2 separate regions of the Homo sapiens genome follow, and region 2 is linked to region 1. Evidence: fine-mapped expression QTL. Tissue or cell type: prefrontal cortex. Region 1 holds a variant in brackets; the other region holds the start of a gene. All regions are shown on one strand. Distances are between the middles of the regions.

Region 1 (5,150 bases):
GGTAGTGTAGACAGGGTGGATCTGCTGGACAGGCAGGTAGTATAGACAGGGTGGTTCTGCTGGACAGGCAGGTAGTATAGACAGGGTGGTTCTGCTGGACAAGCAGGTATTGTAGATAGGGCAGATCTACTGGAAAAGCAGGTAGTGTAGACAGGGTGGATATGCTGGCCAGGCAGGTAGTGTAGACGGGGTGGATCTGCTGGAAAAGCAGGTAGTGTAGACAGTGTGGATCTGCTGGAAAAGCAGGTAGTGTAGACAGTGTTGATCTGCTGGACAGGCAGGTAGTGTAGACAGGGTGGATCTGCTGGAAAAGCAGGTAGTGTAGATAGGGTGGATCTGCTGGCCACGCAGGTAGTCTAGACAGGGTGGATCTCCTGGAAAAGCAGGTAGTATAGACAGGGTGGATCTGCTCGACAGAGGGAGGTGTCACACCCCAGGTGGGGCTGAGTGGGACGGCATGAGACTTCATCAAGCTACTCAGAATGAAACATGATTTAACACGTGTGTATTGTTTATTTCTGGAATTTTTCATTTAATGTTTTTGGACCATGACTGACTGAGAGTAACTGAAACCTTAGAAGGCAAAACAGTGGATAAGAGTGACTTGCCGACCTGAACAGTTTGCTCTTAGAAACTTTGTGTGGTTGGTTGTCTGATCTGTGACTTCCTTTAATTCACTTCTCTGAGTTCCTTAAAGGTAGGAATCATGTTTTATTCCTCTCACAGCCATATTTCCTTAAAAACTAGTTGGTGAACCGTGGAAAATCTAGATTGCTCAGGCCGCCTTCTGCCAACAGAAATAACGTTGCCTTTCAGCGGTGGTTTGCTTTTCTGAAATTTTCGGTCATCACACCCTTTAGAAGGAACAACTTTAGAGAATAAGACTGGCCGGTATGCAACTCCCAGAATTTTCTCAGGAATGTTTCAAAAATCTATTGTTATTCTGGATACTGGTGAACAGATGCGCGAACGGCTCAGGCTCTGCCACTGGCCTTCTCCATGACTGTGTTTGTAGGGACAAAGCATGGTAGCAAACAACTTCAAAAAACCTCTGTGGCTTGAAAACACAAAGTTTAATCACTTGTCCATGCTTCTCTTCCACTGCAGGCTGGGGGTAGCTCCTGTATCCTCAGGCCCAGGTGAGATAATTTTCCCATCCTGAGCACTGCCAGGCTCATGGCAGAGGGGAGGGTGCAGGAACGTTGTGCGGCTTTTAAAGTTTCTGCCAATAAGGGGCAGAGTCACTTCCATTCCGTTCCATTGGCTGGGCCTGACCACGGGACAAGTAGCAGAACCTTTCCATCCAGGAGAAACAGAGAGTGTCTGGAGGAAGAATACACACTGTCCCCAACTCCCAGAGTTAATGCTGTGAATTCATCAACAGGATGATACACTTGCCTCACTGGCTTTTTGTTCCAATAGACAGAATCATAGAGTCTTGTTGTGCTGAGAGCCTTGTAGGTCACGCAGTCCAGGGATGCAAAATTAGAAGACAATGACGAGGTGCAAACCTGAGAGTGGAGGCGAATGGAGTCCGGAGGGCGGGGACTGCAGGCCGAGCACACACCCCACCGGGGAGCAGCCATCTCAGCTGCAGCCGACGTTGCCCTAGAGAGATGAATGCAGGCCCAATGTTGGCAGCTATTCCAATGTGAAAGAAACTAAAAATCCAGACTTTTATGTAACAATATTCTAATATTTACAACATTAATCAGCTGGGGGAAAAAGTGTCCACAGAACTTTTGCAGCCTGTGAGCCACCCATTTCTACCCAAATTCAGCCCAAACCTCTAACTGCACAAGCTCACACAAATAGAGAAAGCCAGGAAAAGTATCCAGAACTCCACATGCACTTCACTACTCACAGGGGCCTCCAGCCCTGGTAAGCATGGGAACCACACATGTAAACACTGAGGTGCCCTGCCACGCCAGTGAAGTGCATGCTGCTCGTGTGTGACCCATTTTTAACCCCTAAAGGCATAAAACACGAATACTGTGAATTCAGTTAATAAGTTGAATTTACACCAGTCCTTCCTGATACAGCCGAATCAGATCTTTCCCATTATTCACTCCTCAGTATATCACCCCTTCTGTTGAACAGAAATAAGTAAATATTTAAAATTTCTTACCCAGGGGTCAGCAGATTATGATCCAGAGGCCAAGCCCAGCCCGTCTGCTTTTGTGTATAAAGTTCTCATGGAACAGAGCTGTGAGCCTGCCGTGTGTGGTCTACGGCT[G/C]CCCCTGGACACAGCTGCAGAGCTGATTCCCGCACAGACCTCGGGGCCCACAGAGGGAGGCGCCTTCCCGCCATCATCCCCACTGAGCACCAGCCGCCGCAGCCGCTAAAACCTGCGGAACTCACTCCATGCCCCTTGTTGGCTTTCTTCACATAAAGTGGATAAAACTGGGTGTTTACAGCCTAAAGCAGCCCATGCCAAGGCAGTCCTCAGGGACTGAGCCTTAGTCACAGTCCTTGTGACTACAGCACGTCCATAGATGAGAGCTGGCCGAGGGATCCGTGTGCCTCCAGCTTCTCGGAGCTGGAAAGAATCCATACTGGAAAAGTGTTCCTTCAGTGCTCCTCCTTCTGGGAAAAAAAGACGGGGAGCTACATCAACCTTAAGGGTTAATGTTGCTTGAATGTAAGCATAATAAATATTCAGCATGTCTCCTAAGACCTGGAGTATCATCAGAGACCAAGCTTGGAAAACCACAAAGAATGACGCCCAGTTTCTAAGAGTCATTCCGTGCTTTACAATCAGCCCACAACCACCGAGTCCCAGGAAGCCCAGCCGAGACCGCGGCAGGTCCTGACGCAGCATCAGCCTGAGTCTGAGCCCAGAGGAAGCTTCTGCTGCCACAATTGCTGCGTGTGCTCATGGCTTGGGTGCAGGCCCAACCACAGCGGACCAAGGGCAGGCTGAGATTTGGCCTGGACTGGAGGGCTGTCTCAAGGAGGGTGACGTGTCTTTGACTTTTGCATTCTTCCCTTTTCCTTTCTATTCTCTTGGTGACGTGAACACAGACAGAAAGTGAACGTTTTTTGCATAAGTTCCCTGTAGATTCTGGATATTAGGCCTTTGTCAGATGCATAGTTTGCAAATAGTTTCTCTCATTCAGTAGGTTGTCTGTATTCTCTGTCAAACGTTTCTCTTGCTGTGCAGAAGCTCTTTCATTTAGTTAAATTCTACTTGCCAATTTTGTTTTGTTGCAATCGTTTTTGGGAACTTAGCCAAAAATTCTTTGCCAAGGCCAACGTCAAGAAGAGTATTTCCTAGGTTATCTTCCAGGATCTTACAGTTTGAGGTCTTACATTGAAATCTTTAATATATTTTGAGTTAATTTTTGTATATGGTGAAAGGTAGGGGTCTGGCTTCAGTCTTCTGTATGTGGCTAGCCAGTTATTCCAACACCATATATTGAATAGTATGGTCTTTTTCCACTGCTGCTTTTGCTGGCCTTGTCAAAGATTGGATGGTTGTAGGTGTGTGGCTTTATTTCTGAGTTTTCTGTTCTGTTCATTGGTCTATGAGTCTGTTTTTGTACCAGTACAGAAGCTGTTTTGGTTACTGGGGCTGTATAGTATAGTTTGAAGTTGAGTAGTGTGATGCCTCTGGCTTTGTTCTTTTTGCTTAGGATTGCTTTGGCTATTTGGGCTCTCTTTTCATTCCATATGAATTTTAGGATAGTTTCTTCTTGTTCTTAAATGCATTTTATAATTAACTTGTTTAGCTCTAAGAAAAAAACTTGATTTTGTATTGGAATAGCATTAAATTTAATATTTTTAAAAAATGTTTCATCTACTTCTAACTTACTGCAAAGAGTTTTATAAAGTTGCCTGTAATGATTTTTTAATGTTTTTCTTCATTTTTATAAAGGAAACATCCTTGTAACCACACCCAGGTCAAGGAATAGAACTTTATCAATCATCCCAGAAGCGCCCACCACATGTCCCATTTCTATTATAACCTACTTCCTCTCCCCAAAAATAACCACTTCCCAAACTCTTATGGTAATCATTTCCCTAATCTTTATAGTTTTATCACCAAGTGTATATCCCTAGACACTATAGTTTAGTGTTGTTTTATTCTTAAAATTTGATATGTTTTTAAAGTCTCTTTTAATCTACACGTTTTTCTCTCTATCTCTTTCTTTTCCTTATCTTTTACAATGTTTAAATTTTCTTCTGTTAGCACTTGTAACTTTCTTATTTTTTTTTTTTTCTAATCAGATACCTAGTGGTTTGTTTTGGTTGATTATTTTCTCTTGAGAGCCAGCTTTTGGATTTACTTCTTAGTTCTATTCTTTTTCTACTTAATAATATCTGCTTTTATTTGTAATAATTCACCCCTTTCTTTTGGTTCACTTATTCTTTTTCTGGCTTTTTCAGTTATATGTTTAAATAATTTATTTTTATTATTTAAATTTGTATTGATATAGGTATTTAATGCTATAAAGTTTCCTGTGACAGTTACTTTTTTTCTGAGTCCTATAAATTCTCTATATATTTTCCCAGCCTTTTATAGCTGTATATCTTATATGCAGTATGGTGTTTGATTTTGCTTTGTGAGCCAATCCAAGACTGTTTTCCATTTAATAGGTGAGCCAAGTCCATTTTTTACATCACAGATAACAGGGAACCACCTTGTTCTATTTTATTTGCTTTTACCCTTTTGGTATTTAAGAGGGCTTTCTTCCTCTTTTTTTTCCACTTTTATCCTAATGCCTTTATAGCAAACACTTAGTTTCTTTGGTTGGCTCCCCATAGTACCTGATACTGCAGTTAGCTGATGGACACCCCAGTCCCAGTTGGCCCCTGCACATCTTCTGCCCGCCCCTACCACTTCTCTGGTGGTTGTTCTTTGTCTGCATTGTCCAAGCTGGTAACCATGGCATGCTGCACTTTTATCACCGTCATGTGCCAGCAGCTCCACAGATAAATACAGACCACCTGCAGCTCACCTTTGCATCTGCCTCTAGTCATTTTGGTTTCCGGAGCTTATTCTTTAGTGGGTCATCCCTCAGCTCCTGGTCACCGTACTTCCTGTGTTTGTGTGTACTCATAAAAAATATGTGTGACTTTTACCCTTGATAGTCACTATTTAGATGTTAAATCTTTGGCTTATATTTTTTCCCTTAAATATCTTAAAT
Region 2 (5,150 bases), 39 kb after region 1:
ATACCCTGGTACAGATCATATGACGTTGATTTATTTATTTGTGGAGTCAGGGTCTCGCTGTGTTGCCCAGGCTGGAGTGCAGTGGTACGATCATGGCTCACTGCAGCCTTGAACTCCTGGGTGTGGTGGTGCACACCTGTAGTCCCAGCAACTCTGGCAGGCTGAGGCAGGAGAATCGCTTGAACTCAGGAGGTGGAGGTTGCAGTGAGCCGAGATTACGCGACTACACTCCAGCCTGGAGACAAAGTAAGACTCCATCTCAGGAAAAAAAAATTTTAAATTAAAAAGTTCTAGTATCTAAAATGAGCAAAATCGCCAGGCGCGGTGGGTCACACTTGTAATCCCAGCACTTTGGGATGCAGAAGTGGGTGGACCATCCGAAGTCAGAGGTTGAGACCAGCCTGCAGTGAGCCGAGATTGCACCACTGCACTCCAGCCTGGGAGACAGAGTGAGACTCCATTTCAAAAAAAGAATTAGCCAAGCGTGGTAGCATGCACCTGTAGTCCTAGCTACCGGGGAGGCTGACGGGGAAGGATTCCTTGAGCCCGAAGGTCAAGGCTGCAGTGAGCCTTGTTTGCACCACCTCACTCCAACCTGGGCAAGACCCCATCTCAAAAAAGAAAAAAAACCCACAAAAACAAAAAACAAAACAGAACAGAACAGCATCACTTCCTTATCATTAGTTTGAAGGAAGTGAATTGCCTGTAAAAGTTTCCATTTTCAAAAAAAGTGTTAAAATATAGTGTAAAGCCAGGCACGATGGCTCATTCCTGTAATCTCAGCACTTTGGGAGGCTGAAATGGATTGCCCCTGGAGGTCGAGGCTGCAGCTGAGCGATTCTCCCGCCTAAGCCCGGCAAGTTGCGGAGACTACAAGCGCGTGCCACCATGTCCAGCTAATTTTTTGTATTTTTGTAGAGAAAGGGTTCCACCATGTTGCCCAAACTAGTCTGGAATTCCTGAGCTCAAGTGATCCACCCACTTCCGCCTCCGCCTCCCAAAATGCTGGGATTAAAGGCGTGAGCCACCGGGCCTGGCCCAATTACTTTCTTCAGTCTGAGCATGAGTGCTGGAAGAAAAGCTCTCACTTGCATATAATTTTTTAGAGACAGAGTCTCCCTCTGTTACACAGGCTGGAGTGCAATGGCGCAATCTCAGCGCATTGTAACATCAACCTCCAGTGCTCGATCGCTTATATAATCTCAGCTCACTGTAATCTCAACCTCCCGGGCTCGATCGCATATATATACACACATATATTTGTTTGTTTAGACGGAGTCTTGGTCTGTTGCCCAGGCTGGAGTGCAGTGGCGCGATCTCCGCTCACTGCAACCTCCGCATCCCGGGTTCAAACAATTCTCTGCCTCAGCCTCCCGAGTAGCTGGGATTACAGGCACCTGCCACCACGCCCGACTAATTTTTGTGTTTTTAGTAGAGACGGGGTTTCAGTGAAACCATGCTGGCCAGGCTGGTCTTGAACTCCTGTCCTCGTGATCCACCCGCCTCGACCTCCCAAAGTGCTGGGATTACAGGTGTGGGCCACCTCGCCCAGCCGACTGCTTATATTTTTAAAAAGATGTTTTCTTCATTTCCTAGCCCCTTCTACCCCGCTACAAGTTTCAAAGACTTAATGCTATTACAAAGGACCGTCAGAGGTCAAGCTCAGGGGTGCAACTCCCTCATGCCGGGCAGCCTCAGGGGGCCGACCCTACCCAGGATGAGCGGCGCCAGGTAGCCGGGGACGCTCCCGGGGATCCCCGGGCCCTGGCTGGGGGAGGCGTTGTGGAGCGCACGTACCCAGGCTCAGATGAGGCGAGTGGGCGGCCGGGGCTGCAGCTGGCGCTGGCCATTGAGGAGCTTCTGCGCGACAGTGCGATCGGTTGCACCTTCTGCGACAGGTGCCGGCCGGTTGGCGCGCAGCGCCTGCTAGCGCAGAGTCTGGCCCTTGCTGCGCCCGGCGCCGAAGACCGGGAAGTCGTAAAGCTCCTCCTCGTGGCTTATGTGCGGCGGCGGCCGGGCAGAAGCCTAGCGACACAGAACTGCCAGCTCAGCAGCCGGTTACATCCCGCCCGGCCACCAGTAGGCAGCGTCCGCTCATGCGCGCTCCTGGAAGAACCAGCAGCCCCCACCGCGAGTTCTGATTGGCTCTGCGTGAGTGGTAGTCCCCTGTGACGTCACAAGGGTGCGCCTTCCGTGACGTCACAAGGGCGGGTCTTCGCCGACACCATAGAGGTGGGCCGTTGGCGACGTTAGAGGCGCGGGTGTTCGGCTACATCACTGGGGCGCCATGGTGCCTGGAGCTGGGCAGTTTTCTCATCAGAGTGGGGACTGGTAAGAGTGACCTCCCCGCCAGGTTCTGTGTGTTGCCGGCTGAAGAAGGGTAGCTGAAAAATTCAGACCCAGCACAGTGTTTATGTTGGTCAAAAATAGAAAACTATGTCTGGCGCGGCCGAGGCGGGAGGACCCTTCAGGCCAAGAGCAGCCTAGCAACATGGCGCAACCCCATCTCTGTAGTCCTACCTCAGCCCCCCAGCTACTTGAACCCAAAGGTTCAAGGCTCCAGTGAGCTATGATCCCACCACAGCATTCCAGCCTGCGAGATTGAGGTAAACCCTGTCTAAAAAAATTTAAAAAACTATCCAGGTGTGCAACAGGGAGGGACTGCTAAATAAAACATGAGGCTGGCTGGGCCCTACTGTAATCCCAGCACTTTGGGAGGCCGAGGCGGGAGGATGGATGGCTTGGGCTCAGGAGTTCGAGACCAGCCTGGGCAACATGACGAAACCCCGTCTCTACAAAAGATACAAAAATTAGCCGGGCGCGGTGGACACCTGGCCTAATTTTTGTATTTTTTTCTAGAGATGGGGTCGGGGGGTGCCTCGCTATGTTGCCCGGGCCAGTTTCGAACTCCTGAGTTGAAGCAATCTTCTCACCTTGGCCATCAGAGTTGTCGGGATTACAGGCGTGAGGGACAGCGACCCACCTGGGTTAGGCTACTTAATAACATAAAGTGCTCCGCCAGGCTCAGTGGCTGACACCTGTAATCCCAACACTTTGGGAGGCCGAGGCGGGTGGATCACCTGAGGTCAGGAGTTGGAGACCAGCCTGGCCATGGTGAAACCCAGTCTCTACAAAAAATACAAAAATTAGCTGGCCGTGGTGGCGCATGCCTGTAGTCCCAGCTACCTGGGAGGCTGATAAAGGAGAATTACTTGAACCCGGGAGGCAGAGGTTGCACTGGGCCAAGATCACACCACTGCACCCCAGCCTGGGCGACACAGCGAGACTCCAAAGTTTGACACCAGCCTGGGCAATGTAGTGACACCCTGTCTCTACAAAACAAACAAACAAAAACCCAGGCATAACTGTGTCCACCTGTGGCCCTAGCTAGTTAGGAGACTGAGGCAGGAGGATCACTTGAGGCCAGGAGCTCAAGGCTGCAGTGAGCTATGATAATCCCACTGCTTCCCATCCTGAGCAATAGAATGAAAGCATGTCTCTAGATAGATAGCTAGCTAGATAATTGATACGTAGTTTTGTATCAAATTTTTTCCCTAGATTTGAGCATGTTTTTCTAAAGTAGCATTCAACACATCAGCATTTTACAGTGTTATTATTTGTTAATATGATTATGTTTTTCTGAAATACAGTGTCCTTTACAAAAGCAGTTTTGTCTTTCAAAGCGCATAGATAAGGCCCTCAAGTAAATTTGTCTGATGTTGCCGACCTTGGTACCATTTTGTCCACTTGATTGAAAAGCCAGTCAATAATTTCAGGTCACTGTTGGCCTTAGAAGAAGAGCCCAAAGGCAACAAGCAAAGGCGCTGGTGTCCAGTCGCCTTCTAGAAGCATTTTCACTTTCCCTTAAGGTTTCCCTTGATGAACATAGAAGTACTGTATGTAGAATTGACCCAGTGCTGCCCTGGCAACTTTGTATATTAGGCCAAATTTACATTTCTTAGCTTTATGAGAGGCACCCTGGTAGGCTAGTGGAGTTACACACAAAGTCTGATCTCAGCTGCACTGTCCAGAAATGCAACACGGTCCAATCAAATAACATTCTCTGAGCCTGTTTCTTTAGCTGTGAAAGAAGAATAACATACCCATCTAAAAAGGCAGCTTATTGTATTTGATTGGTCTTTTATTTTCTATGAAACTGTGTTTAACACAGTAATTATTTTCATTTGTGTACTACATTTGTGTTGTGTTTTTGGTTTTAGTTTTGTTTTTGAAATGGAGTCTTTTTTTTAGTGGTTTTTTGTTTTGTTTTGTTTTGTTTTGTTTTTGAGATGGAGTCTTTCTATTGTCACCCAGGCTAGAGTGCAGTGGCGTGATCTCCGCTCACTGCAACCTCCACCTCCCAGGTTCAAGTGGTTCTCCTGCCTCAGCCTCCTGAGAAGCTGGGATTACAGGTGCCCACCACCATGCCCAGCTAATTTTTAAAATATATTTTTAGTAGAGATGGGGTTACAACATGTTGCCCAGGCTGGTCTCAAACTACTGACGTCAAGTGATCCACCCGCTTTGGCTTCCCAAAGTGCTGGGATTATAGGCATGAGCCACCGCGCCTGGCTTGTTTTAAAATAAGGGTTTCTTGGCTAGGCATGGTGGCTCACACCTGTAATCCCAGCACTTTGGGAGGCCAAGGTCAGTGGATCACCTGAGGTCAGGAGTTCGAGACCAGCCTGACCAATATGGAGAAACCCTGTCTCAACTGAAAATACAAAATTAGCCAGGCGTGGTGGTGCATGCCTGTAATCCCAGCTACTCAGGAGGCTGAGGAAGGAGAATTGCTTGAACCCAGGGGGCAGAGATTGCAGTGAGCTGAGATCGCACCATTGCACTCCAGCCTGGGCAATGAGCAAAACTCTGTCTCAAAATAAAAAAAAGATTTCTTAAAATGATATTTTCAGTATTTTATAGATGATGTGTAAGCAGCAAGCTTAATAGGATGTTACCCGACACTTTGCGAGACTGGCAGCTGATTTGATCCAGATGTCTCTAATTCTTTTTTCTTTTTCTTTTTCTGTTTTTTTTTTTTTTTTTTTTGACAGAGCCTTGCTCCGTCCCCCATGCTGGAGTGCAGTGGCAAGATCTCGGCTCACTGCAACCTCCACCTCCCGGGTTCAAGCGATTCTCCTGCCTCAGGC

Evidence for each region. PIP is the estimated chance that this variant, and not a neighbour inherited with it, causes the effect.
Region 2: LINC01409 starts here. The variant in region 1 is fine-mapped to the expression of LINC01409 in prefrontal cortex (CommonMind, PIP 0.95).

What each region holds. Positions count from the first base shown.
Region 1 is chr1:815,181-820,330 of GRCh38, reverse strand. It overlaps FAM87B (family with sequence similarity 87 member B), which reads right to left and starts at 2,960. Exons shown (of 2, transcript NR_103536.1): 1 at 2,129-2,960; 2 at 497-1,608. RefSeq lists an enhancer at 2,846-2,945. The variant G/C (reference allele first, on the strand shown) is at 2,237.
Region 2 is chr1:775,740-780,889 of GRCh38, reverse strand. It overlaps LINC01409 (long intergenic non-protein coding RNA 1409), which reads right to left and starts at 2,092. Exons shown (of 6, transcript NR_187359.1): 1 at 1,798-2,092. It overlaps LOC100288069 (a long non-coding RNA gene), which reads left to right and starts at 2,256. Exons shown (of 20, transcript NR_168328.1): 1 at 2,256-2,606. RefSeq lists an enhancer at 1,970-2,539.